4 linked regions of the Homo sapiens genome follow. The protein of the gene in region 1 interacts with the protein of each later gene in a biochemical or structural test. Each region holds a gene or a part of one and is shown on either strand. Other genes may lie near its edges.

Region 1 (6,495 bases):
AAAAAAAAAAAAAAAAATTATGGATCCAGTGTACTCCCTTTTTTTTTTTACAAAACTGGTAATATTATTATTACATAACACTCTTGCCTATCATAGTATTAATAATCTTTTCTGTCCTTTGTAGGTATGTGGACAGGATGAGGAGATTGAAGCATGCTCCATTTTGCTACCTTGAATAATTTATCTGCAAACAATTCCTCTTGTTCTTGGGAGAATGAATGTTCCTTTGAGGGATGCTGCAGTGAAGGATGATCCAAATATGAGATGTTTAGTGTGCATTCTGGACAGGCATTACTTCTCAGAGTATTAGGTTCTTCTTTTCATGAAGATGAGGAAACTTAAAATCATCTAAAATCCATGCTCTCTGCTCATGCTTTAATTTTTTAACAATTTGTATTAGTTTTTCTTTTCTAACAAGGAAAAGTTTGAAAGAGCAACTGAAAGAAGATCCTTCTAAAGCTATACCTTGGAGGAACACAATTTGATTAGGTTTAAGGAAAGTCAGTATTTATAGGCTTGTTTTCATGAAAAATAAGCTTTATTGAATCCCTTGAGGGGAAAAGCATAATTTTACAGCTTAGGTTTCTTCCTTCCCCAGTGATACTAGTTTCTCAAATTTTATCCTGAAATAAAACCGTGGGCCGATTGAGAAGCTAGATGGGCAGATGCGTGACAGATCACCATTGTCCCTGGTTGTTACATTAGAAAAGAAAGTTGTAACAGAAGGATTCTTTTTGTCAGCCTCTCTCCTAAAGATTCTATAGAAAGGTTCAGGAGTATTTTGATTGTTCTCTACAATAAAACCTAGGTTGTTCTCTTAAAAAAAATTTCAGGTGTTTTCTCTAAACATTCTCTAACATTTTAGGCTTTCTCAGCTTAGGATGAGCTTCTCAGGTGGTTGGATATTAGGACTGTACGTTATAGCTGACCACAGATTCTAATCTTGAAAAACTGCTTCATGAGACTGTAGAAGATAGCATTCTCTTAAGAACTTTCCAAAACTAAATGACTACTTACTATCCCCTGGGCTTATGAATTCTGTAAAGAATTAGCAGCTTTAGGTAGAATATGGTCAACTTTTTCTGAAGGTCCTTATTTAGAAACAAAGGAATACCCAAAGGTCTGAGTTGGCTGCCTGTCTAGATTACTTTTTCTTTTTTTTTTTTAAAGAGGCATCTTGTTCACTTGTTCATCAATTAATGCTCTTGAATCATAATTTTTATTTCAATGTCCATTTCATAAGAAACCTATTCACTGAACATTAAAACAGAAGGCTGTAAGAATGCAACAGACTGAGTGAAAAAAATACCCTTCCAAATAGATTTCACACGTCAATCTCCATCAGAGAAACATTTCCCATCTTAATGCCTCCCTTTAGAAGTAAATAATAATAATTTGAGATAAACTACACTTCTTCCACACCTAGATATACAGGGTTTTAATGCTAAAAAAAAATTGTATATTTTTCATGAGAATTTCTCTAACCCCGAATTTTGTAAATAAACCAGTTTAAACATCATTAGTTTGTTATCTATCCTCTATGTGTTACTTCATCTAGATATATACAAAAATTTGGAATGAATAAATGTTGGTTGATAAAAATATTACATAGCTGCTAATGGGATTTTTTAAGTGCAGCAAATTAATACTTAAAAGTTTGGTTCTGCTTATGGCAAGTTTTGTGTTTAAAAGAATTAAGTGTATATATATATATCTTCATATCCAGTCCAAAGAGGTCAGAAGAATATTTACAAAATAAATATGTAGGGAATTTTAGAATTTCATTGATTCAGATGAAGTGATAATTCCTTAATTAGCATAAATCTTTAGATTGTATCAACTATTGTATGCCGTATAAATTACTCTGATCAGTATTATTTTTTTACTGGTTAGAGTAAGAAATTACTCTTAAAGACAAAATCACTAAAAGACAGTTGTGGTTTTGATGAATTGCTATATAATACTTACTAAAGTTAGTTATGGGTATAGGCCTTAACTACAATTTACTCAACAATATATAAACTAAAAATGTCTTCTCCACTTCCTCAAAAAATTTAATTATTTTATTCAAATTTTGAAACTTTATTACAGCAAAATTCTAATTCAAAGTCCTTGTCATTTAATTTTAGTTTTCCAATACTTTCAAAGAAAACTTGGCTATAATACTCCTCTTGGTAAAGTTTCTTACGCAACTTTATGTGTTGCAAGAATACTATAAAATTTTAACTAACTAGAGTAGGATAAAATGCCAGTGCATATAACATCTGTTGCATTTATAATACTTCAATGTAATGTGCAGACAATGAAGTTAAGGTTTGCTGAAGATCCATTGTTCCGTGAGGCTTAATTCCTTTTCCAAAATTATAATTGGTATATGTGGTTCAAGGTAAAGTAGTTGAAAACTTCACAATTATACTTATTAAATATATTTCTGATTAAAAGTAGAATGTGCCTGTGAAAATCTGAAATCAATAAAAGAAATGTTAGCTATTTTAGAATGCCAAAATTAATATTTAAAAACAAACTAAGAATAAAGGGAACACCGAGACTTGTCTTAAAGAAGCTGTTTGTCATTCTTTTTTTTTTTAGATTACAACACACATACAATAAGTGAATTTTATCAAAATACAGCACATTTCTTCTACTATATCCATAAAAATCAATTCCTATGTAAATAGTACTGAAAATCAACTAAAATGAGTTAAAATTTACAAAGAGTTGTTAAAGGGTTTCAATCAAAATTATTAAAACTATACAGTACAATAACCAATTGATAACATCTTGAAAGAAGTGCAATATTTGAGTTCACATATTTTTAAAAGTGCTGCCTACTTACTCTGACTAGCAAGAATGGAAAGTGAGTCCAACTCACTTTTGCAAAAATAATGTTGGTTGGTGTTTTAAGCTAGTCTTATAAAAGTCTTAATTAAAATCAAGGTTGATAAACAAAGCATAACAGATTAAAAATTCCCAAATTGCATTTCTTAGTAAATAAAAATGAAGTGCAATAACCAAATATTGCTCTAATGAAAGGTTCCAGACTAGCCTCAACTAAACAGTTATTGGTCTTCTATGGCACTTTTTTCTGGTCCAAATAACCATGCATTAATCCTTACCATTACATGTTACTCAAATTTTATTTGATTACATAGAACAAAAACAAATAAAATTAATGGTCTGGATAAACAAAATTAATAAACCTCTATCATCAAATATTTGTTACAGTAACTAGGAACAAAGAAAGGCAGTTGGTGGTAAAACACTATTACACTGATACACATAGAAACCCTTTAAAGACTCTGGAAGTGTTGAGTTCACATTTAATGTTACCTGTAGAAACAGCCCTTTATTTGAACACCTTTACACACTGGCAGGCCTCAAGGACCCATCCCTTTGCTCTATAACTCTCCACAGCAATTCTCTATCACTGTGCCAGTTTCACAAAGCTTGCTTTGGTTTCCTAGCTCCAAGTGTACTGTTTCCTTTTACTTTACCAAGGCAATGCAAGGCCAAACAAAAATCAAAGAGGCTTTCCTAAACCTTCGTAACATTTTGTGTTACAGGCAACACAATCTTAAAACTGGCCATTTTTGTTTCATTTGCTGCTTAAAATAAAAATTATAAATTAGATTTAAATGGAGCACTAATTATAAAACAGATTGCAAGTACCACCATTTGAAAAAAAAAAAAAAATCAGTGGATTTCCATAACACAGAAAATGCATGGACATGCATCTACAGTAGAGTTAAAAATTTCCTGTGACTAAAAAATTAAAAACTGAATCACCAGTAGCAAATGTATAGTCAATGGCTATGACAAGAACAGATCCTGCCGAGCTCATAAATGCAATTATTGTCTTTTTTGCTTTATAAAAAAGACATTACATATTTTATTGCATTATTCTCCTAATAAAAACATACTACCACGTAGCTCTCCCCATCCCCATTCTTTGCTTCCAGATTTTTATAGAAAATAACTGTTTTAGTCTGGCCTTGGAAAGTGAACCCACCAGCACCACCTTCACCTACTCACTCTTCAATTCAATATGCACATAGCAAAAGCCAACACTTCAAATCTCTTGCCCACATCAAAAAAAGTAGTTTCAGGAGAAAAACATTAATACCAGTTGAATAAAAATAAGGGCATAAAAGCTATGAGAGAGATAGCTCTGCCATCTGTCTCTGGGCTAAAATCAAGGCTAACTATTGCCTTGCACACAGTTCAGTCATGTATATGAAATCCAAAAATAAACCTACAATCTATACAAAAACAACACAGGTTTGTTTTTGTAGCCTTGATTGCTATGTTTAAAAACCTAACAAGTTTTATATGGTATGAATTCAACAGTCTCCTTTATATTCTGTACAGTGGTTCTTTCCCTCTAACCACAAGTTCCATTATTTCATTAATGTACAAATTTGAACATAATTTTTTGAGTTCTTCTTTATATATAAAAATAGTCAAAATATTAATTTCCCCTGTAAGTATCTTCCAATAAATCTTGCTGTCTTCCCCGCTTTTTTTGTCCACAGTGCTTATGAGGAAACTTCTCGTACAATGATGAGTTCAACTGTATTCTGGAAAGTTTTTAGCAAGGACACTGCTTGTCCATGTTCAATATTTATAAAACTGTAGCCATTAGCCTAGAAGAGGAAAAATGCTTTTAGGAAAAACATTTTATAGTTATTTATTTGCATTTCTGCCAAGTAGTTCACAAACTTGGAAGAAAATAAGAATCACTTTGGCAACTTAAAATAACATACAGATTCACAGGCCCTACCCAAACCAAGGAATAAAGTCTCTGAAGATGGGGTCTAAAAATGTGTATTTTGTCCAACTTCTCAGCCAATTCTTATGTAGCAGCCCAATGTTAGAAATCACTTACTTAAGAAATAATGTCAGACATGGTGTCGTATAATGCTAATGTGTATCTGAGGTGACCAAACTGTAGCGTAGCAGGGGGCAAGGGCTACTCTTCCCATTGTCTTGGAGCCATCACATCAAGACCACCATATTTCTTACAATTAAGCTTAATATTTACTGAGGTTCTACTGTGTACCAAACACACAATTCTAAGGGTGTAATATGAATTAGATCCTTTGATTCTCATAATGCTCAAAAAAGATTCTTTCACTATCTTATTTTAGAGAAGAGAAAGCCCAGGCATGGAGAGGCAAAGTAACTTGCTCAGTCACAAATTGAAACCCAAATGGTTCAGAAAAATAAATGTGTATAACTGTATGAGTGAGTGTGACTGTGTGTGTGTGTGTATGTGTGTGTGTGTGTGTGTGTGTGTGTGTGTGTGTAGAGGGAGGGAGGGAGAAAAAGAGAAGAAAGAGGAGAATAAATGATAAAGACAATGTAGCAAATTATGAACGACTGGTGACCAATTGATGTAATACTGGTGTTTGTTGTAGTATTTTTGTGGCTTTTTTCTAAGCTTAAAATTATTCAAAAAAAATTTTTTTTAATTAGTTTTATTTTTAGAAAGTGTTGGGACCAGAATTTAAACTCAGGCAGTCTGGCTTTCAGAATCTGTACTTTCAGCTATTAGACATTAATGTCTCTCTCTCCCTTTTTTTTTGGTTTGAGGATTATTTTTTAAGTTCTTTAGTTCTCAGCTAAGAACGGTGACAGTAGGGGTAGAAAATGAGAGCTATACTTGTGTCCTAGGTTTGTCTTCCTTCTAAGACTGTAAGTGTTTAGGTAAAATGAGTAGCTGAATGAACAAAGAAAAGGAGGGGACAGGAAAAAATGAGTTTCGCAGATTTAAAATTTTTCTTCTCCATTTCTGAAAGGACAATAGCCCACATCCAAGAAGTGGTACTCTAATCCCCCTCAAATTAGTAAAAATTAACATTCCTGAGCTTAAACAAAATCCTATGATGTATCAAACTTTTTTTTTTTTTTTTTTTGAGACAGAGTCTCGCTCTGTCGCCCAGGCTGGAGTACAGTGGCGCGATCTCGGCTCGCTGCAAGTGCCGCCTCCCGGGTTCACGCCATTCTCCTGCCTCAGCCTCCCACCCACAATTTTCAAAGTTAAAGTGAAAACATTTTAAACTGTGAAAACATTAGAGTGTTATAAAATGAAAAAAAAAAAGATTTATTTTAATTACCTGAATAATTTTATCACCTGGCTGCAGTAATTTTGATGCTGGTCCTTCAGGTTGTACCCTTGTTACAAATATACCCTTTAACAACAAAAAAAATTATTTAACTAAAAACAGTATGTATAAATAACAGAGTACCAAGGAGCAATTTTTCCTCCACACCATGCAAATATTTGAATCATGGTACAAGTTTTCTCCCTGACTTCTCTGAGTAATACTGTAACAAACTAGTTATTTTTACCTCTAGTAATTCTGACTTTAGTGATTTCTCTTGAGAGTAATAAAATTACTTTTATAGGTGTGTGAAAAAGCAATAAGAAAGTTAAAAATCATTTCATTATATCATAAACATTCATAGTTTTTGGTTAAATTGTTTTAACTTGAA
Region 2 (7,500 bases), on another chromosome or scaffold:
CAATGGGGAAGGGAATAGGAAGAGCCTCCCCTTCAGGACGAGCCAGAAAGGTAGGGGAGAAGGTGCTGCCCAGAAAGTGGGGGTTGGAGAACAACAATGATTCCAACGGTCCTGGGAAGCAGGAAGAGCAGGTATTACTCGCCTATTTCTCTGAGGAGGAGGAGACCAGGGAGGATAAGGGAGGTTAACTGATTTGCCCAAGTTCACAAAGCTAATAAGGAGAGCTAAAATGAAAATCCAGGTTTTATGACTCAAAAATAAGTATATAAATAAAGTGTTTCTTCCTGTTGTATTTTTTGTTTGTTTGTTTTTTGAAGAGGAAACAAGTAGAATTTTTAGAGGGTAAGACTATAATTTGGCTGAGCAAGGTGGCTCACGCCTATAATCCCAGCACTTTAGGAGGCTGAGGCAGGAGAATCACCTGAGCCCAGGAGTTTGAGACCCACCTGGGCAACATGGCGAGACCCCCATCTCTACAAAAAAATTAAAAATTATCCAGGTGTGGTGGTGCATGCCTATGATCCCAGCTACTTGTGGGGCTGAGGCAGGGGGATCTCTTGAGCCCAGGAGGTCGAGGCTACGGTAAGCCATGATTGCGCCACTGCACTCCAGCCTGGGCAACAGAGCAAGAACCTGTCTTAAAAAAAAAAAGTCATTTAAAAAATAATAAAAGAGTCCAGAATTTGAGCCAAAGTAGAAAACATGAGTACTCCTAGACTGCAGGTTCCCTGAGAGTCAGAACCACATTGATTTTATTTGCTTCTGGAACCTAGGCCTACCAAAGCGCCGATGTTCCACATTTATCTGGGGGGCTGACAGAGTGATATCTACCTCTCCACGGCCCCTCTGGCTGGCTCTCTCTCCTCTCTCCCTTTCTTAGCTCAGAGCTGGCACAAGGAGACCAAGTGCTCTGGGCAGAACCAAGCATGGAGTCTACAGCCCCAGTTTCCATTCCAGGGCCTCCCCAGGCTAGGAGTGGCTCCCTCGTTCTCCCAGGAGAGGGCAGGGGGTTACCCCCCACCCTTCTTCCCTTTGCCTTCCTGGGCATGTGCTGCTGGATAAAACCCTAATTCCCAGTTGCCATGACAACAGGAGGCAGTGGCTCACAGCAGGGGTGGGGAGTGGGGGGAAGCATCTGGCAGTGCCCACTTTAGGACTGAATGCCTGCTGAGTCCTGGGGGTGGGGGAACCACGGCAACTCCACCTCCCCCCAAAAGAGGATTCTTCCCAGAGGACTAGTACCTGATTTCAATAAAACCCTCTCTGCTCCCATTCCCTTCTCAGGCCTGAGCTGGTCACCTGAGCTCAGGTGACAGAAATTACAAAAGTGAGGGGGATGGTTCCCTTTCCTCCCAGCTCTGCCGCTGAGGACATGGAATAAAGGTGCTTTCAGGGAGAGGAAGGGCACCCCTATTCAGGCTACACCCAGGCTGGAAGAAATGCCCAGGATCCACTGTGCTGGCCCGTGCCCCTGGTGCCAATCTCTACTCCTAGAGAGCAGGGAGGAGGGATCCCTTCCCTCCCCCTCCCAGGCCTTGATGACCTGGAGCCTTCTCCTGGCTGGCGCTGCTCTCCCTCACAGGGTCAGAGAAGGGACTCCAGAAGTCCTCCTTCCCTAGAGCGTGGAGGGCGGGAAAAGGCAGGGAGGATCCTGTATGAAATCCCTGCGCTCGGAAGTCTTGCCCAGCCTGCCTGGGTTTTCTCCCGGGGAATCGGTTCCCAGAGCATCGGCTGGCTTTGCTCCCCCACGCCCGTCCAAGCCTCTGAGAGGGCGGGGCCTGGCTGTGTCCACAGGAGAACGGCAGTGCCAGGCAAGCTAGCCTGGCTCCGTGCCAAGGTCCTGCACCCAGACATCTGGGAACCTGCACCTCGGCTTCCAAAAGCCTGGGCCCAGATGCCCTCTCAGCTCTGCCTCCGAGATATCCACATCACCCATAGTGTCCGCAGGCGAGCGGACCAGCAGTGAAAGGGAGAGGTTTCTTCCAACCTCCCACCCATCCCTCCATCCATACACATACAAAGAGGTGCGGAGAAGAAAGGTCTGACAAAGGCGCTTTGGAGAGCGAGAGGTCGCGGGGAGGTCTGGACAGAACTGAGGGCCAGAGGATGGGGTCGAAAGGCCAGGCGGACGTGCATGCTTGGACCATCAGATCACCCCTGCCCCAACGGACCCAGCCCTAACACCCTGGGCGCTAGGACCTGGGGGAGGGGGGCGTGTTGTGAGCCATCAAAGAAGGCTCTCTACGTGCGCGCCCGCCGGAGACCAGGGATGAGGTCACTAAATGACTGCCCCGGCCAACCCCCACCCCGTCTTTATCCGCACCGCCCCCCCCTTAATTGACCTAACTTTCTAACCCTAGCTCTTCGCTTCTGGCACCGGTCCCCTCCCAAGTCTCCAGACCCTAACCCTGGCTCCCGACCCGCCCCGCTACAGCTTGGGAAGCGGGAGAAGCAGCGCGCGCCCTTCTGCGGACCCCCTCCCAGGGAAGATTGTGGTGTTAGCTGCCTAGGGGGACCAGGGGGCCACCGGGACCCAGCGCAACCTCTGTCTCGCTCCCCAACCCCCGGAAGCGCTAACAGCACGGTTCTTACGTAATGCCGGGCTTCTAAGTACCCCCAACCCGCACAGCCCCCGGGGAGGCCGCGCAGATACCGGGGCCCCTCACAGCTCACCACCTTGGTGCCTGAAGCCACTTTGGAGCCCCTACCGCAGGGGCGGGGACCAGTGTCAATGGGCAGCGGGGCTTGGTTCTCCCAACCAGCACCCCAGAAAGAGGGCCCAGGGGCGGGGGCGGGTGGACAGGGAGGGAACGGGCCTGGGTGAAAGGGGCCTGTGGAGTTTAAACCCAGTGAATAGGGTCCTAAGTGCCGTGTCAGGACGAAAAGAAGGCGGAGGTCTTGGGATAGGAGCTGGCCCGGGGGCCGGGGGACGCCTACCTGCGCCCCGGGAAGCCCCTAGCTCCGGGCGGCTCCAGCGCAGCCGGGCGCTCAGCGTTTATTGCTTGTCAATCGCTAGCCCGGCTCTTAAAGCGGCAAGGCCTCTCCGCGAGGGGGCGGAGGTCCGGAGGAGAGGGGAGGTGAGGAGAACGCGGAGGCCGGCACAACTCGGAGGAAGTAGTCTTTCCCAGCAGCTGGTACGGGGGCAGCCAGGTAGTGGTTTGGGAGACACCGCACAGACCACGACGCCCTGCTGGAGTCCCACTGGGAAGGGTTAGGGAGGCAGGACTGGTACCAGTACCCGCTGGTGCCCCTCGGCTCCCAAGGATCCCTTAAAGGGGCGATGGTAAAAGTGCCTAATGAGACCGGCTTGATTACTCCGCCCACCCATCTTGGCTTAGACCGGCGTTCTAGTTCCAGGCGTGCCTCACTTTTCCTCGTTATCCTGCTTCCATATTGAGAAAAAGAATAGGAGGACTTCAGAGAGACTCCCAGGAAGCAGGATACCAGCCCCAGAAGGCCTCGGGATCAGGGGCAGCTTTTTAAGGACTCAGAGGGTGGATATCCGGATTCCAGACTTTCCAGAAATTTTGCAAAAAAGAGGAAATGTCTTCCTGAAAGGATTCGAGAGCCTCTTTTAGGTCTAGGTGAGGGAGGCCTGGTCCATTTTCCTGCCTATGGAATAAAGAAGTAACTGGCTAGCCTTCCTCAGAGTCCCAGCCCAAAAAGTAAATAAAGGGTTAAACCCACTGGCCCGCCTTCGCCCAGCCTCCGGCTCCACCCCACATCTGCTAGTAAAAGATGCTGGGCCTCCAAATACGGGAGGCTCTGTGCAGTGCGACTAGCATTTGGGGCCAGCTACGCTACTTCTCCGACCTCGGCGTTCAGCCACCCCGTCCAGTTGCCCTGAACAAAATGTGAGAGTCATCCCTTTTCCTTGCTAACTGGATTCCTAAGATCATAAATGGACTGCATCTTTGGCCGGGCGCGGTGGCTCACTCCCATAATCCCAACACTTTGGGAGTCGGAGGCGGGAGCATCGGTTGAGCCTAGGAGTTCGAGACTAGCCCAAGCAACATAGTGAAACCCCATCGCTACAAAAAATAAAATAAACAAAATTAGCTGGGCGTGGTAGCGCGCGCCTGTAGTCCCAGCTACTTGGGAAGCTGAGGCTGCAGTGAGCCGAGATTGCAACACCGCACTCCAGCCTGGGCAACAGAGTGAGACCCTGTCTCAAAAGAAACAAAAAGAAAAGAAATGGATTACATTCTGGAAACTTGCTTGGAAATCTCAGAAATGGGAATCTATCCCGAAAGCAGGGGACTGGTCCCTGGGTTCCAAGACTCAGCTCTCCCCTGAGTTCCAAGGGTATAAGTTTGGATATAGGAAAAAGCCACAGAGGCGGCCGAACTGCTGAAAACCACATTGTTTAGGTGACCCAGGCTTTTACTGAGAGAAGAAAGCCATCGAACCCAGATAGCTTTGACAGGAATTGCAGGCTTTGGTCTCTAAACAAAGAGGGTTCTTGGAGCGCATTGCTTGCAGCTCTTTCCTCTATCTGCAAGCTAGAAAATCCTTCTTCTTCTTCTTCTTTTTTATTTTTATTTTTTGAGACGGAGTTTCGCTCTTGTTGCCCAGGCTGGGGTGCAATGGCATGATCTCGGCTCGTCGCAACCTCTGCCTCCCGGGTTCAAGCAATTCTCCTGCCTCAGCTTCCCGAGTAGCTGGGATTACAGGTATGCGCCACCATGCCTGGCTAATTTTGTATTTTTAGTAGAGACAGGGTTTCTCCATGTTGGTCAGGCTGGTCTCGAACTCCTGACCTCAGGTGATCTGCCCACCTCAGCCTCCCAAAGTGCTGGGATTGCAGGCATGAGCCACTGCACCCGGCCTAGAAAATCCTTATAATTGAATTCAGGAAGAGTTCCCCTTTCCATTATAAAGGCTACCCTCCACTGTCACCTGTCCACCTCTGGGCTGGAAATCACTCAGCTATTTGTATTTTGGAAGAGGAAGGATCTTGAATCTCTACAAGATATTAATTACTTCTTAATCAAGCAATTATTACCTCCATAGCGACCCACATCAAATCTTCCATTCCATTTAGGATCCTCAGGACAGTCTGGGATCTCAGATTCTGGCCCACCTGGGGAGGTGGAGCCCAACTCATTATTCTTAGCGGCTGCCCCACTGCATTCGTCGGTCAACAAGTATCTCTCTAATAAAGGCCTTGCAGAATGCCAGCCTCTCACATCTGTTCAGGACCTTACAATTGACAAATTGTTTCATTCTCACAACAGCCTTGTGCAGTTACAGAATGAGAAGAAACATTTATTGATGCAGAATAGGATGCTCCTCTTCTGTGCCAGGCAAGGTACCACTTACTGTGATACTGAGATAAGGGCCCTAACCTCCTAGAGTTCACAGTCTGGGGTTGAAGTCGGAAAGGAGTGTGTTACATAGATACAAAAAGCGCTTCTTGGTAGCACAGCTGAATGCCATAATAAAGGTGCAGTGTGTCCTAAGCTGTTCCCCAAAGGAATAGAGCTGCTAATGGTTGGCAATGGAGTAGCTGGGAAGGGAAGCAGGTTTGAAGGTCGGCAATGCATCCCCTAGTAGTTAAGGGCTGCCCCCTACCTCAAGAGGGGAATGAGTCCTCCTTCTCTGAGGTTTGTAATTAGCTCTGCCTTCCTCCCTGCCTCAGCCTCAGAGGTCATAAAGGTGCAGGTAGTATATCTCCTTCCCCCAAAATCAAGGTATTCCTATGGTGGTGTTCAGCCCAGAGTTTTGGGAGTCAAGGCACAGAGAAAAATAAAACTCAAAAGTGTTACAAATTTCCAGCAGGTAAGGCTTTGCACTGAGTGATGGTGCACTTCCTATAATGACCAGCAGGGGCCACCAACAGCTATTCCCAGTTTATCTACACCCAGCCTCTGAGGTGCTTCGCCTCCACACCTGCGACTGGCCAGTGCCTAGTTCTGGAAACCTTATTTATGGACTATACTTAAAAAAAAAAAAAAAAAAAAAAAAAAAAACTTGGGCGAGGTGCCATGGCTCACACCTGTAATCCCAACACTTTGGAAGGCCGAGGTGGGCAGATCATGTGAGGTCGGGAGTTCAAGACCAGCCTGGCCAATATGATGAAACCCTGTCTCTACTAAAAATACAAAAATTAGCTGGGAGTGGTTCCGGGCGCCTGTAATCCCAGCTACTTGGGAGGCTGAGGCAGGAGAATCGCTTGAAGCCGGGAGGCAGAGGTTGCAGTGAGCCATGATTGCGCCACTGCACTCCAGCCTGGGCGACAGAGTGAGACTCCGTATTTAAAAAAAAAAAAATTAGAGCCTTCAATGGACTATATAAAATTATATAAATATTTGCCTATAAACTATATTTGTGTTATTCAACTAATTAGTATGCATATTAGAAATCACACACATAGGGATGAATTTTTATTTTCATTTTATTTATAAATAAATAAACATATTTTGAGACAGGGTCTTACTCTGTTGCCCAGGCTGGAATGCAGTAGCATGATCATAGCTCACTGCAGGCTGGACCTCCCAGGCTCAAGCCATCCTCCTGCCTCAGCCTCCAGAGTAGCTGGGACCACAGCTGCATGCCACCACACCTGGAGAATTTTTTTTTTAATTTTTTGTAGAGATAGAGTCTTGCCATGTTGCCCAGGCTGGCCTTAAACTCCTGGGCTCAAGTGATCCACTTGCCTCAGCCTCCTAACGTGCTGAGATTACAGGTGTGAGTCACTGCACCAGGCCAGGATTAATTTTTTAACTATAAATAGAAATTCCAATTTTGTCTTCCCATACCCAAAAGGATCATCTTGCACACCCCTAGGTGCACACCCACTTTGGAAACCACTGTTCTAAAGGAAAAGCTATGCCGTCCTCCCTAGTCCCCGCCTCAACAGGGCATCCAGACAGGAATGGATCCAGACAGCTTTGCCTTCCCACCAGGACTAAACCAAGGCCTCCGTGAAGGACCAAGTTTCCTGGCCTCTTGCTCATCCCACAACCTCAAGACAGAAATTGAAGCCTCCTCCGCCACTACCACTACCATTACCACCAGCCTGGCCTGCGTTCATGTCAGATTGCCTTTCTAGAGGGCAGAGCCCCAAAACCTCTCTTGTAAGCAGCATCTGTTCCTCCACCTGGCCCAACAATTGCACTTTCCCTTGCCTCCTGATTTTAGTCTGCCCACCTCCCTATTGGGGTGGGAAGTTCTGGAACCAGACAATTTTGTGTTGAAATCCTGGCTCAGCCACTTCATGTGTGTGTCTTAGGCCAGTTAAATAACCTTGCCAAGCCTCAATTTCCTCATCTGTACAATAGGGATAACAACTTTGGGAGAGGACAGAGGTAGAGTGGCTGCCATGTGCCAGGCACACAGAAGGTGTTCTATAAACGCAGTTCCCTTCTGGGAGTAGGTCTAGGCAGGTTCTAGCTAGGTGCCAGCGGGCCGTGGGTGGTTAGTCCTTATCTCTGGCTGTCTGCTGTGTCCTGGCTGACTTCAGGTTCTCCTGCGGAAGGCAGGATCCACCCCAGGGCT
Region 3 (7,316 bases), on another chromosome or scaffold:
CCAGGGCAGTGGGGGTGGGCTGGGGGCCCAGCAAGCAGTGCCTGGCCAGGGCAGTGGGGGTGGGCTGGGGGACCCCAGCAAGCAGTGCCTGGCCAGGGCAGTGGGGGTGGGCTGGGTGGAGGGAGTGTACTTGGACCCAGCTCCTGCAGGCATTAGGGGCCAACTGAGGAGCTAGAACCACCAGATCCTATATGGAGGGGGTCACTGGTCTGCCTGTGCCCTTGTCCTGGCCTGTTGGAGTGAATGAGTCTGGGGGCTTGCCAAGAGAAGCCCCAGTTTGGGGCCAGGGAGGCAGAGAGTGAGCAGCCTCCCCAGGTGTTCTTGTGTGCCCCCAGGCCCGGACATATATCCAGTCCCTGCCCCCCATGCCCCAGAAGGACCTGAGCAGCATCTTCCGTGGAGCCAACCCCCTGGGTGAGGACTGCCCTGGGCTAGACTGGGCTCCATATCTGGCCCTGGATGTACAGCTGACCCCCCTCCCCACCACTGGCTTCCCTGCAGCCATAGACCTCCTTGGAAGGATGCTGGTGCTGGACAGTGACCAGAGGGTCAGTGCAGCTGAGGCACTGGCCCACGCCTACTTCAGCCAGTACCACGACCCCGAGGATGAGCCAGAGGCCGAGCCATATGATGAGAGCGTTGAGGCCAAGGAGCGCACGCTGGAGGAGTGGAAGGGTGAGCATGGCAGTGGCTGGGGGTGGGTCCAGGGGCCTGCGGGCTCCATTTCCCCAGAGGCAGGAAATGCCCCAGTTCCTCTCCAGACTGGTCAGGTGTGGAAGGGCGTTCAGGTGTCCAGCACAGGCTGGGAGCGGGGCGGAGGAGTGACACAGGGCAGGTTCTGGCTCCCAGACTGTGCTGAGGCTGCTGTCACAGGGTGGTGGGCCTGGGCTGGGTGGCAGGTGCCAGACAAGCAGGTGAGGGGCCGGGCTGTGGGAGGCACAAGCTCACCCTTTCCCTTCACCTCCTAGAGCTCACTTACCAGGAAGTCCTCAGCTTCAAGCCCCCAGAGCCACCGAAGCCACCTGGCAGCCTGGAGATTGAGCAGTGAGGTGCTGCCCAGCAGCCCCTGAGAGCCTGTGGAGGGGCTTGGGCCTGCACCCTTCCACAGCTGGCCTGGTTTCCTCGAGAGGCACCTCCCACACTCCTATGGTCACAGACTTCTGGCCTAGGACCCCTCGCCTTCAGGAGAATCTACACGCATGTATGCATGCACAAACATGTGTGTACATGTGCTTGCCATGTGTAGGAGTCTGGGCACAAGTGTCCCTGGGCCTACCTTGGTCCTCCTGTCCTCTTCTGGCTACTGCACTCTCCACTGGGACCTGACTGTGGGGTCCTAGATGCCAAAGGGGTTCCCCTGCGGAGTTCCCCTGTCTGTCCCAGGCCGACCCAAGGGAGTGTCAGCCTTGGGCTCTCTTCTGTCCCAGGGCTTTCTGGAGGACGCGCTGGGGCCGGGACCCCGGGAGACTCAAAGGGAGAGGTCTCAGTGGTTAGAGCTGCTCAGCCTGGAGGTAGGGGGCTGTCTTGGTCACTGCTGAGACCCACAGGTCTAAGAGGAGAGGCAGAGCCAGTGTGCCACCAGGCTGGGCAGGGACAACCACCAGGTGTCAAATGAGAAAAGCTGCCTGGAGTCTTGTGTTCACCCGTGGGTGTGTGTGGGCACGTGTGGATGAGCGTGCACTCCCCGTGTTCATATGTCAGGGCACATGTGATGTGGTGCGTGTGAATCTGTGGGCGCCCAAGGCCAGCAGCCATATCTGGCAAGAAGCTGGAGCCGGGGTGGGTGTGCTGTTGCCTTCCCTCTCCTCGGTTCCTGATGCCTTGAGGGGTGTTTCAGACTGGCGGCTCCAGTGGGCCAAAGGGCAACCACATGAGCATGGGCAGGGGCTTTCTCCTTGGATGTGGGACCCACAGCAGCTTCCTGAGGCTGGGGGTGGGTGGGTGGGTGGTTTGGCCTTGAGGACGCTAGGGCAGGCAGCACACCTGGATGTGGACTTGGACTCGGACACTTCTGCCCTGCACCCTGGCCCGCTCTCTACCTCTGCCCACCGTTGTGGCCCTGCAGCCGGAGATCTGAGGTGCTCTGGTCTGTGGGTCAGTCCTCTTTCCTTGTCCCAGGATGGAGCTGATCCAGTAACCTCGGAGACGGGACCCTGCCCAGAGCTGAGTTGGGGGTGTGGCTCTGCCCTGGAAAGGGGGTGACCTCTTGCCTCGAGGGGCCCAGGGAAGCCTGGGTGTCAAGTGCCTGCACCAGGGGTGCACAATAAAGGGGGTTCTCTCTCACTTGGCTTGTATCCAAAGGCTACTCCAGGCCCGGGTGCCCCCACCATCCCTGCTGCTGGGCGTGGGGGGAGTGTCTGGGTCATCCTGCATCACTCACCTCCAGCTGGCCAGATCCCTCAGGCCCCCAGTCAGACCAGCGGCCATCTTCTGGCACCCTCCCTGCTCCCTGGAGGGTCTGAGAGCCCAGGGGGACCAGGGGAAGACATGGCTGATGGGCAGACTTTGAGGGCACAGGGTGTGACAGCCACCCAGATGGTGACCCCAGCTGCCCTGTGGGGATGTACTGGGCAGGCTTGGCTTTGGGCCAAGATCCAGACACCACCCCCGCCTACCCCTCAGTGTTCAGGGAAGCTGGCTGGGGAGAAGTTGGGTGTCTCAAGGAGCAAGGGTCTGCCCATCCCTGGGTGGGGGCTGGGCAGGGTAGGGAAAATAGCTTTCCTTTCCCTCCTGGTGAAGGAAAAAGAGGCCACTTTAACCCAGGGAATGTGCACGCTGGTCCCGTTCCCACTACGCGCTGCAGCTTATGTGTGGGGGAGGGTCCAGGCCATTTGGGGTCAGGCAGTGTCTCTAAGGACCAGGGACAGTCTGTGCCCTTGCTTGGGTCTTGGGTAGGGGTGGAAACCGTCTGGGAGTTGGGGGCCTCCTGGGGCCTGGTCAGTGTAGTGGTCAATCCCGGGGGAAGTCCAGTGTTGGCGGTTGGGGGTGGGAGGAGAATGGTGACACAGCCCCACCTCAGAAGCCTGGTCCGTGCAGGGCCTGCTGGACCCCTGAGCCCCACCACGGGGAGTAAGGGGGACAGCGTGGAAGCTGGGCTTCCTGGAAGAGGTGGATGGAGTGCCACAGGCAGCCCAGGGCACAAAGGGTATGGGCCACAGGCAGCTGTGGTTTGGGTGGCCCTGGGCTGCCCCGCTCACTGGTCACGAGCTGGTGAATGCCGTGGAGCACGGCCCAAGCCCAGGTGTAAAGCTACTACCACCCTTGAGCGGCTGAGCTGCTGATTCATGGCAGGAGGGCGGGGCAGAAGGCCCTAGGGATCCTGTTACCCACCAGCCCAGTGGGCTCCTGGGGTGCCCCAACATCCCTTCTGAGATCCAGGTTCCTGGGCTGGTGAAGGGGTGTCAGGGTGGGGCTTTGCCCTCAGGAGCATCTGGTCCAGGATGGGGCCAGACCTATGGGAGGACAATGCCCACACAGAGGGGTCAGGCGGAGGGCCCCAGCAGGTCCCCATCCCTGCTGGAGAGAGTGCAGCCACTCTCAGCCTGGGTTTTGCAGGACAGGACAGGCAGGGGTGGGATGGGCAGAGACACCAGTACTTGCAATGCTTGGAGCAGGCACCCCACAGATGGGGGGAGCAGGGGGAGGAGCTGGGGGTCCAAAAGGGCCCACGGGGACCTATGGGACTGAGAGGCCCGGGGTCAGTGGCCACAGGAGTGGGGTTGGGGATGCAGCCTGAGGAGTTTGGGGGACAGACCCCTCCGTGTAGAAAGAGGGATACAGGCAGGACAGGTGCAGATGGACCCCTTGTTGGGGGACGGATGGATCAGGCTCAGTGGTAGGGCATCCTTGGGGGTGGCCTGCGAAGTTGACCCCGGGAACACAGGGCTCAGCCCGACTTGCGGCTGCCATAGAAGTCAGCGCTCAGGCTGTCAAGGATGGGCCCTGCGCCCTGGAGCCGTGGGGAGTTAGGACTGGAGCGGGCGGGGGGGGGGGGGGGGGGCTCCTGCTGAGACCCCCCCAGGGCGGGGAAGTTCAGCCAAAGGGGAGAGGCTGGCAGAGGTATCTCCGCGCCGCGTCCGGCCCTTTATGGGGACGAAGCTGCGGGGCGGCGCTCCCCTCCCCCTGCGCTTCCCCCCAGGCTCCGGCCCTCCCCAGGCTCCGGCCCTCCCCCGGCGGCGGCCGCCTCGGGTTTCCGGAGGGGCCGGAGGGCGGGCGAGGGCGTCACGTGCGCGCCGCCCGCGGGCCGGTTGGTCCCCGGGCGGGGGAGGGGCCGTGCGCAGCCTGGGTCGGGGTCGGGCCGGGGTCGGCACCTGGGACATCCCTGAGGGAAGGGCCGGGAGCGGGAGCGCCCCAGCGGCCGGCGGGCGGGCGGGCGAGCGGACGAGCGGCGCGGAGCCGGCCCGAGGCGCGCGCCGAGGGAGCCCCGTCCCCGGTCGTGGGGGCACCGCCCGCAGGCTCTGCGGGGTGGGCAGCTCCCGGGCCTGCCATGAGCTCTCCGCCGCCCGCCCGCAGTGGCTTTTACCGCCAGGAGGTGACCAAGACGGCCTGGGAGGTGCGCGCCGTGTACCGGGACCTGCAGCCCGTGGGCTCGGGCGCCTACGGCGCGGTGTGGTGAGCGCGGGCCGGGCGGGGCGGCCGGCGGGGCGGGCGGGGCCTGCGCGGGGTGCCCGGCCTTCCCGCTAAGCGGTCCGCCCCGCAGCTCGGCCGTGGACGGCCGCACCGGCGCTAAGGTGGCCATCAAGAAGCTGTATCGGCCTTTCCAGTCCGAGCTGTTCGCCAAGCGCGCCTACCGCGAGCTGCGCCTGCTCAAGCACATGCGCCACGAGAACGTGAGTCGCGCGGCCCCGCTCCGGGAAGGCGCCGCGGCCTCGGCTTGGTTCAGCTGGGCTGGGTTCCCCCACCCGGCAACCCCTCCTCCAGGCAGCCTGCTGTGGGGCCGGGCGGGGGTCGGGCCGTGGGTCCCCAGGGGAGAAGGAGAGCAAGGCCTGTCTCTCCTTGGGAGACGACTCCCCCAAGGGCCGTTCCCCATCCTCCGCCAGCCCCGGGAAGGACTCAGCCCCTTGACTCGGCGCCTCAGCCAGGCCCTGGTCAGGGAACACGACTTGGCCAGGCCCAGGGGATCCTCCAGGTCTCACGCCAAGCCTTGCCCCCAGCCAGGAAGCCCGCGGTGAGAGCATGCTCCCGGCGGGAGGATTTTCCTGGAAGGGGCACCTTCCCTCTTCCCCATCCCCTTTCCAGCCCCTCTGTGGAGCCCACTCTGCTGCTGTCCATCTCCCGAGTCTTCCGACCCGGTGGTGGAGGGGGAGGAGGGGGGCGCCAGAACGCAGGGAGTGTGTTGAACCCTCAGGAGCCCCTGGGGGTGAAGGGTTTAGGGAGCTGCTGTTTGAGGAGCACTGGGCGTGGTGGCCGCCTCACAGACACCCTCCTGTGCGTTGTGGGGGCCCATCCTTTCCAGTCCTTCCAGTGAGATGCCACGTACAGCTGCCCTGGGCCTCTCCCATGGCGGTGGCTGGCTGCTAAGAACCCGATCTCTCTGCCAGGGGTGCTCTGGTTTCTGGATACAGTCCCACTTGTCCACTGCCCCCCACGTCACTCCTGCCCTCCCCCTGGTCTGGGCCCAGCCTGAGGGCTGGTGGTCTGGGCACCCGGACCCTACCTACAGGGTGAGATGCTCTGGACCCTCCTGGGTCATCTGAGCCACCGGTGCCTTGGGAGAACGAGTCCCTGCGTCCACCAGCAAAGTGCCCCGTCCACCAGCAAAGTGCCCCGTCCCCCGGTTCCTGGCCACCGCTACTCCCTCAGCCCCTTGGATGGGTCTTTTTCTCTGAGGCTTCCCATGCCCACCCTGACCCCCAGCTCACTACCCTGGGCCCTGTGAAATCCATTTGCAGTGGACACCAGCCCTGCCCGCACCTCGACACCCCGTCACACCCAGCCCTGCCCCCACTTCGCCGGCACCGCACCCCCCCACCACCCGCCCATCACACCAAGGCCTTGCCCCAGGACTGCAGCCTTCCCCACGGCCCCCTGCTCCCACCCACCCACTCACCCACCCGTGCCTTGCCCCATCCAGCCAAGCGCTCTGGGGCTTTTTTTCTTTTTTTTTCTTTTGAGACCGAGTTTCGCTCTTGTTGCCCAGGCTGGAGTGCAATGGCACGATCTCAGCTCACTGCAACCTTCGCGTCCTGGGTTCAGGCGATTCTCCTGCTTCAGCCTCCTCAGTAGCTGGGATTACAGGCGCGCGCCACCACGCCTGGCTAATTTTTTGTATTTTTAGTTGAGATGAGGTTTCACTATGTTGGGCAGACTGGTCTCGAACCCCTGACCTCAAGTGATCTGCTCGCCTCGGCTTCCCAAAGTGCTGGGGTTACAGGCGTGAGCCACCGCGCCGGGCTCCACCGGGGCTTTTCTTTAGCCACCGCCCCGCTGTGCTGGGATCTCCGCTGTGCCTGTGGGCCCACCCCCTGGGCTCCTGGCCTGCAGCTGAGGCTCTTTCCCTGGAACCCCATCTTCCTGGGAGACTGAAGCTCTGTGAGGCCACGTGCCTTGCTCAGCGGGGGAGGAGGCTCTGCCACAGGCCTCAGTCCTGCCAGGCCGCCTCCCTCTCCAGGCCAGCCCCCATACCACAGAGGCCAGGCCAAGTCCTGTGGCCCCTAGCCCACAGGACCCTGCTCTCCGTCTTCTGCTAAAGCACTCTCCCGGGCACCCTCCAGCTCTCATGTCCACAGTCCCCGCTGCCCCCTGGACACCCCCTCTGTTCCCTCTCCTCCTCCCTCCACATTCTTGCCCATGGCTCTGGCCCACGTGGCTCCGGCGGAGCTGTCCTTCCAGCTTGTGTCCATTCTTACCTCACTCTGGCCGGTTCCTACACCACGGCCAGGAGGACGCATTTAGCCTCACGTCCCCATTTAAATCGTCCCCGTCTCTTGGGATCAAAGCCAAACTTCCACCTGGTGTGTGCTGCCCTGCCGGCTCCCTCTGGCCTCTCCTCAGCCCCTCCCTGGCCTGGGCCTCCGCCACCTGGCCTCCCTCCCTGTATTCTTCAAACTATCCAAGTGTGCTCCCTCCTGCCTCGGCCACTCTGTGTGTGCCCTCTGCCAGGTGTCCCGCAGCCCACATGTCTACCTGCCCCTCCACCCTTGGCTGTGCAAAACTCCAGGCCTCCCTGGGACCGTCACCCCAAAATGCTGAGGCGGCAGTTGTCACATGACCTGTCTACTGTCTATCTCCCCAACCAGGGGTGCTGAGGGGACCAGGTCTGGTGGGTCACGGTGCTGTCCGCCTGGGCCTCACCAGCAGAGGCCTGGCCTCTTTCC
Region 4 (7,023 bases), on another chromosome or scaffold:
GTGACCTCTAGAGATCTGCAAAGTCCTGCAGGGCCCCCAACTCCCTGGCACAAGGCAAGCCGACCTGGGGAGGGAACCACATCTCTGTGTGTCAGAATTCCTTTTCTCTATTGTCCCTTTTTCCTGTGCTTCCTCCTTCCCTCCTGCCTCCCTACTTCCCTCCCTCTCATCCATCCATCCATCCATCCATCCGTCCGTCCATCCATCTGTCCATCCATCTGTCGTGTCGTGTCTATTCACCCTCTCTCATCATGACATCCTTATTCTTCTGAGATTCAGCATGTGGCACAGGGATTGGGGAGTCTGTCACTCTGTTTGGGCAGAATTTGACTTTTGGCCTTTAACTTTTACCCAGAGAACACTTGAGGAGCAGGATGTCCAGTTTCCGGAACATTGGGCCTTCTGGTTAGTATTATTAGCCTGTGCTTCCCATTGGGCAGTCCCCAAGGCCCTCCCGGAAGCCCCCAGTTCCCATAGCAGCCTGGCCTTGCAGCTAGAACTGGGCCAGGTTAAGACAGGACTATATTTGTGACAGCCAGAAATGGCTGTGATAAATATAGTATAAATATAGCCATTTCTTCTATGCCAATATTAAGTTACTGTCCTGAAGCTGGTCCAGCCAGGCCCCACCCTGACCTCAGGGGCCTGAATGGGTAGAGGGGGCACAGGGCACTCACCTTCCATGGCATCCCTATCCTCCTGAATCCAGTCCAGCCAGGCTCCACCCCTACCTAAGTGGGCACGGGGGCACAAGGCACTCACCTTCCATGGCGTCGGAGATGCCGCTGTCTCCGCTGCTGCTCTGCCTCGGGGCTCCCTTCTCCCCTTGCGATGTGTCCAGGCTGCCATTGCAGTCTTTGCCATGGGCTGGGTCCCCATCTGCCTCCCCACCTTCCAGAGCTTGGGCGGCCTTGGCCTGTAGACCAGCAAGAGTGACTGGCAGGAAGTCCAGCTCTGAGCCAGAGGGATGGACTAATTGACCCTCAGAGCTTCTTCCAGAGTCCTTCAGGGTGGCAGCCCCTCTTCCTGGCCTGTGTCAAACTTAGTGCAGGTGGGGGAGGGACCAACCTCCATGGTGGTGGGGGTGACAGGGTAGGGACCAAAGTGACTAAAGACCCTCTGCCCTGAAGACCCTTGACTCTGATGCCCTGACTAACCCTCCACTTGTTGACAGAATGAGAAACTGGTCAGCCGCTCCCTGTGGCCTCATCAGGACCTGCCCTTCCCTCAGTATGGACCTATCCACTACCCAGAAAGCATCACAAAATCAGAAATATTTGAGCTGGAAGAATACTTCAGGTTTAGCTACTCCAGATTCCTTGTTATAGACAGGGAAACTGAGGCACAGAGCAGAGAAATGCTTTTTCTACTGCTTGGATCCCTCCATCCCCCTGCCACCAGCAAAGCTCCCAGCCCAGGGCCTTCTGCTCCTTCTGCCTCAAAACCCCTACCCCTGTACCCTCCCTCACCCTCGGCCCCCCAGGGAGAAGCCAGTGGCAGCCCCGGCTGAGGGCAGGTAGAACCCTGGGTCCTCTATCTCCTTTCCCTGAGTCCAGACCTTCTCCAGCTCCTCCTGGTGCTTTTTGAACTTCTCAAGCATCTGCTGAAACTCCTCCTCTTTCTCCTTATCCTCGGCCAGGGTGGCCTCATTCTGCTCGGCATATGCCATGGCCACCACGGCCAGGATCAGATTGATGAGGTAGAAAGAGCCCAGGAAGATGATGACCACGAAGAAGATCATGTAGGTCTTGCCAGCTGCTCGAAGGGTCTGGGAGTGGAGGGAGAGGGAGTGGAGGGGTCCCATGACGTCCACCTCCTTTGACCCAGTGCCCCTTTCCATACATCCATTGCCCGCATGGGTAAGCAGAGCCCCTCCCTCACAGAGCCTGGGGGACTGATGGCCGTCATTGGCATGCTGAGCCATGTTCTGGGGAACTTCAAAATATCTACTTGGGACTCAAACGTTTCTGGTCTCCTGGCTCAGAGGAGGACCGAAGCCAGGCATCCTGTTATCAGAGAGCCAGGATAGAAAATTGGTGAACATGGGTTTGGGGTCAGCTTGAATTCTAGCTTTGCCACAGTGCCTGGCACCTAGTAAGAACTCAACAAATAGTAGCTATTATTATTATTTAATCAATTTATTTATTTATTTTTAGACGTAGTCTCACTCTGTTGCCCAGGCTGGAGTGCAGCGGTGTGATCTCGGCTCACTGCAACCTCCACCTCCCAGGTTGAAGTGATTCTCCTTCCTCAGTCTCCTGAGTAGCTGGGATTACAGGTGTTTGCCACCAAACCTGGCTAATTTTTGTATTTTTTGTAGAGATGGGTTTCGCCATGCTGGCCAGGCTGGTCTCAAACTTCTGACCTCAAGTGATCTGCCTGCCTCGGCCTCCCATAGTGCTAGGATTATAGGCATGAGCCACTGCACCCAGCCAGTAGCTGTTATTATTTTTGTTATTGTTATCAACACCATCAATGTTAGAAACATCACATGGCATCAGAAGGCACTGTCACTCCAGGCTCAGCCTGCCTTCCCTGCAAACAGTAGAAGGCAAATAAAGTATGGGCAACATCGAATTTCTGTCTTTCTTTTTTTTCAGACGGAGTCTCGCTCTGTCGCCCAGGCTGGAGTGCAATGGCGTGGTCTCGGCTCACTGCCACCTCCGCCTCCCGGGTTCAAGCAATTCTCCCTCCTCAGCCTCCTGAGTAGCTGGGAATATAGGCCCGTGCCACCATACCCGGCTAATTTTTGTATTTTTAGTAGAGATGGGGTTTCACTATGTTGGCCAGGCTGGTCTCGAACTCCTGACCTCGTGATCCGCCCACCTCTGCCTCCCAAAGTGCTGGGATTTCAGGCGTGAGCCACCGCGCCCGGCAGGCAGCATTGGATTTCTAAGCTGCCCTACTGGCTATCATGAGGCCTAGGGGGTCCTGGGCTTGTGCCTATGCTAGGTCCAGACCTTGGCTCTGAAAGCAAAGGTGTGGAAAGAATTAAAGCTGTGGCTTGGCTCGGGGCAGGTGTCTAGTTTCAGAGAGCACAAGCTCCTATAAGGGCACTGCGGGAGTCCATGAGGAGATGGCCCAGTTCGGGGGTTGGCCATCCTGTGGTAGGCCCCATCAGGCCCTGAAGAGGCTGCAGGGATGGAGGGGGAGTGGCTGTAGGGTTGGGGGGCAGGGTGGGGGCAGCTGTACCAGCTGGAAGAGGTTCTCCCAATAGTCCTGTGTCATGAGGCGGAAGAGAGCCAAGAAGGCCCAGCTGAAGGTGTCATAGCTGGTGTAGCCATAGTTGGGGTTCCGCCCGGTCTTGATGCACTCATAACCCTCAGGGCAGTGCCTAGGAATAGGACAGGGGGCTGGGTTTAGGGTGGGAGGAGCACTCCAGCTGGGGGCAGATAGGGACCCCAAGGGAAAAATTCCGTCAGTTCTGCCTGTGTCCCCCAAACAGAAAAGTATTCCATCCATGCCCACAGGTTTCCCTGCACTCCCATGCCCCCCAGGTCCTCATCTCTAATCAGCTCCCACCTTCCAAGACCCCTGGGGTGCCTTTTCTGCATCCCTTAGCATCACTCACCCAGCATCACTGCTGTTCCCACAGAGCAGGGCATCGTTGGAGCCCTCCAGGAAGTAGAAGTTCCCTTTGGGAGTCAGAGGCCACAAAGGAGGCAAGTCACCCACATGGACACAGTGTGAGCACCTGCGCCCATTGCACACCTGTGGACAGGTCTGCGCGTACCACATAAACCAAACGGATGTTCCCTGGCTGCCTCTTCCCCGTCCTTTAAGGACAGCTCCAAGTTCCAAGGTCTCTGGGTAGGGACTCGGCAGGGAGCTCAGCTTGAGCCCTGTCAGCCCAGTGCCCAGTGTGGACGAAAAGTCATGACGCAGCAGTGGCACAGAGACGGAACGTGTACGTGTGTGCATGGGGTTATTGTGTACCTATGTAGGGCCCCTGAGTGAAGGGTGAGTGGGGGCTGGAATCCAGGTGCCAGGGTGAGAAGGGTTACCTTTTCCTAATTTGCAAGAAGGCGCTATGTAGACTAACAGTGGCTGTGTGAGAATGTGTGTGTTTCTGGCATGTGTGCCTGTGAAGATGCATATGTGAATAGGATGTGGGTGTGTGGGTGGGTGATGGTGACCCTGCCAGGATGTGAGCATGTGAAAATGTGGTGTGATGAAGGAGGACAGGGGGTGCACAGGTTAGGGAGTAGGAACTATAGACTCTTGCTTTGCATAGTGAGAGCTTTAGGATTTTTTTTTTTTTAGACTGAGTTTCACTCTTGTTGCCCAGGCTAGAGTGTAATGGCATGATCTCGGTTCACTGCAACCTCTGTCTGCCAGGTTCAAGCGATTCTCCTGCCTCAGCCTCTGGAGTAGCTGGGATTACAGGCATGCGTCACCACGCCCGGCTAATTTTTGTATTTTTGGTAGAGACGGGGTTTCACCACGTTGGTCAGGCTGGTCTGGAACTCCTGACCTCAGGTGATCTGCCTGCCTCGCCCTCCCAAAGTGCTGGGATTACAGGCGTGAGCCACCGTGCCTGGCACTTTAGGGTTTTTAAAACAGTTTGCCATTTGTTGCTGCAGTAACCCTTTGAGGAAGGTATTGTTATCTTGATTTTATAGGTGAGGATTCGGAGGGCTGGGGAGATCAAGTGACTAGTCAGAGGTGACACAGGCTGCCAAGTGCTAGCTTTAAGCTCAGGTCCTCGCCATACTATTTGTCTCATAAGAAGTGGAGACAGGGCGGGGAGCGGTGGCTCACGCCTGTAATCCCAGCACTTTAGGAGGCCGAGGTGGGAAGATCACATGAGGTCAGGAGTTCGAGACCAGCCTGGCCAACATGATGTAACCCTATCTTTACTAAAAATACAAAAATTAATTGGGCCTGGTGGCACATGCCTGTAATCCTAGCTACTCGGGAGGCTGAGGCAGGAGAATCGCTTGAAGCCGGGAGGCGGAGGTTGTAGTGAGCTGAGATGGCACCTTTGCACTCCAGCCTGGGTGACAAGAGTGAGACTCCATCTCAAAAAAAAAAAAAAAGAAAATGTGGAGTCAGAGGCTACCCTAGGGACTGGGACAGGATCCCCCTTGCCCGTCACCCTCCCCATTCTTACCTTCATCACTGATGTAGGCGTCCCAATCAAAGGTATCGTTGGTGGCCCAGCTTGCATGGCTGTTCCACGTGTCGTTGGCATACCATGAGTCATTGCCGTACCACATCTCATTGCCATACCATGTGTCATTGCCGTACCACGTGTCATTGCTGTACCACGTGGTGTTGGTGTCGTTGAACGGCGGGGGCCAGCGCACACACTTCTGCCTCAGGTTTCCCATGAAGAGCTGCAGTCCTACCAGCGCAAAGACGCTCAGGCAGAAGACAGTGAGGATCATCACATCCGACAGCTTTTTCACCGACTGGATCAGGGCCCCCACGATCGTCTTCAGCCCTGACCGCAGAGAGGGCAAGGATATTGGCAGGGGGCAGGGCAGGGTGATAACAGAGCCCCCGCGGCCCCCACCGCCAAGCTTTTTCCTACTCCATCTTCAAGGCTTGACTTACTGAGCACCACTACTTCCCCGAAGCCTTCTGAAATTAACTCCACCCTTCTCTGTTCACATCCTCAATCTGGAGCCCTCAAATGGCCACAGACGCTCAGCCACTAGGAGAATGAACTATAAAGACCTGATGGGCTGTTGCCTGACCTATAGAGCAAACAAAGGCATACAGCAGAGCTTAATACATGTCACTAAGTTAGCGCTGTCAAAGTGTGTTCAACAGAACGCTAATCTCCCATGCTGTGCCCTTAAAAAGGGGGCGTTGATAATGTTTGGGAAAAGCTGCGTTCTAGATTCTGCTCTTGGAGAGTCATTATGTAGTTGATCCTATCAAAGGCTTTGAAAAGTCCTGCAGAAATAAACAAAAACTTTATTTGTATTTATGTATTTATTTAGAGAGAGTCTCATTCTGTCACCCAGGCTGGAATGCAGTGGCGTGATCTTGGCTCACTGCAACCTCTGCCTCCTGGGTTCAAGTGATTCTCCTGCCTCAGCCTCCCAAGTAGCTGGGATTACAGGTGCATGCCACCACACCCAGCTCATTTTTTTGGTACTTTTAGTAGGGATGAGGTTTCGCTATGTTGGACAGGCTGGTCTCGAACTCCTGGCCTCAAGTAATCAGCCTGCCTCAGCCTCCCAAAATGCTGGGATTACAGGCATGAGCCACCTCACCTGGCCTATTAAACAAAAACTTTAATCCCACGTATCCTTAACATATTTGACCACAGAACCCTTTTCCTTAAAATGCCTAGTAGCACCCGAGGAACAGCAGAAGCTCTAGACTGAACTTGAAACATCATTATATTCTTTAGACAGACAAAGGCATAAACGATGCTGAAATAATCCCAGGGGCAGGTTCCCATCACCTGTGGAAGAGCCGTAACTTCTTCCTTGGGCCTAATCGTAGTGCCTCTTGCGTTAATATGACTTCATTTCCTTTTCTTATCCTGATATGGAAAACAAATGCTCGGCAGCCTCCTTATAAAAGCCCTCCTGCGCCCCGAGGATGCTGGCAGCTGGCACAGAGGAAAGGCAATGCCGTCTTGGCTCAGTGGCCAATGTACAGTGTGGAATTTGGGAAGTGCTTCCTCTCCTGGGTCTCACACCTTCCTCGGCTGCAGTCAGAGGGCTTTAGACTAGAAGATAGCTCAGGTACTTTCTTTCTTACTTTCTTTTCTTTTCTTTTCTTTTTTTTTTGAGATAGAGTCTCGCTCTGTCGCCCAGGCTGGAGTGCAGTGGTGTGATCTCGGCTCACTGCAACTTCTGCCTCCTCGATTCAAGTGATTCTCCTGCTCAGCCTCCCAGGTAGCTGGGATTACAGGCACATGCCACCACGCCCAGCTAATTTTTGTATTTTGAGTAGAGACGGGGTTTCACCACGTTGGCCAGGCTGGTCTCAGAGTCCTGACCCCAAGTGATTCACCTGTCTCGGCCTCCCAAAGTGCTGGGATTACAGGTATGGGCCACC

The links.
Region 2: the proteins of ERBIN (region 1) and MPP2 interact in a test that uses a peptide from one of them, tested with the Homo sapiens proteins (one study listed by BioGRID).
Region 3: the proteins of ERBIN (region 1) and MAPK12 interact in a test that uses a peptide from one of them, tested with the Homo sapiens proteins (2 studies listed by BioGRID and IntAct).
Region 4: the proteins of ERBIN (region 1) and SCN4A interact in a test that uses a peptide from one of them, tested with the Homo sapiens proteins (2 studies listed by BioGRID and IntAct).

What each region holds. Positions count from the first base shown.
Region 1 is NC_000005.10:66,076,571-66,083,065, reverse strand, and holds the end of ERBIN (erbin), read right to left. Parts: intron 6,192-6,495; coding exon 6,117-6,191; intron 4,644-6,116; coding exon 4,536-4,643; 3' UTR 520-4,535; downstream 1-519. UniProt on the Homo sapiens protein: Acts as an adapter for the receptor ERBB2, in epithelia. By binding the unphosphorylated 'Tyr-1248' of receptor ERBB2, it may contribute to stabilize this unphosphorylated state.
Region 2 is NC_000017.11:43,904,537-43,912,036, forward strand, and holds the start of MPP2 (MAGUK p55 subfamily member 2), read right to left. Parts: upstream 3,001-7,500; 5' UTR 2,938-3,000; exon of another isoform or gene 2,677-2,937; intron 2,216-2,676; exon of another isoform or gene 2,148-2,215; coding exon of another isoform or gene 2,019-2,147; intron 1,616-2,018; exon of another isoform or gene 1,544-1,615; intron 1,445-1,543; exon of another isoform or gene 832-1,444; intron 1-831. UniProt on the Homo sapiens protein: Postsynaptic MAGUK scaffold protein that links CADM1 cell adhesion molecules to core components of the postsynaptic density. In CA1 pyramidal neurons, required for synaptic KCNN2-containing channel function and long-term potentiation expression.
Region 3 is NC_000022.11:50,258,680-50,265,995, reverse strand, and holds the start of MAPK12 (mitogen-activated protein kinase 12), read left to right. Parts: upstream 1-4,312; 5' UTR 4,313-4,486; coding exon 4,487-4,611; intron 4,612-4,699; coding exon 4,700-4,829; intron 4,830-7,316. Other genes in the region: MAPK11 (mitogen-activated protein kinase 11), read left to right, coding at 336-414, 502-675, 969-1,048. UniProt on the Homo sapiens protein: Serine/threonine kinase which acts as an essential component of the MAP kinase signal transduction pathway.
Region 4 is NC_000017.11:63,962,910-63,969,932, forward strand, and holds part of SCN4A (sodium channel protein type 4 subunit alpha), read right to left. Parts: intron 5,447-7,023; coding exon 5,114-5,446; intron 3,665-5,113; exon of another isoform or gene 3,636-3,664; coding exon 3,572-3,635; intron 3,335-3,571; coding exon 3,193-3,334; intron 1,769-3,192; coding exon 1,559-1,768; intron 1,300-1,558; exon of another isoform or gene 1,175-1,299; intron 917-1,174; coding exon 763-916; intron 406-762; exon of another isoform or gene 356-405; intron 1-355. UniProt on the Homo sapiens protein: Pore-forming subunit of Nav1.4, a voltage-gated sodium (Nav) channel that directly mediates the depolarizing phase of action potentials in excitable membranes.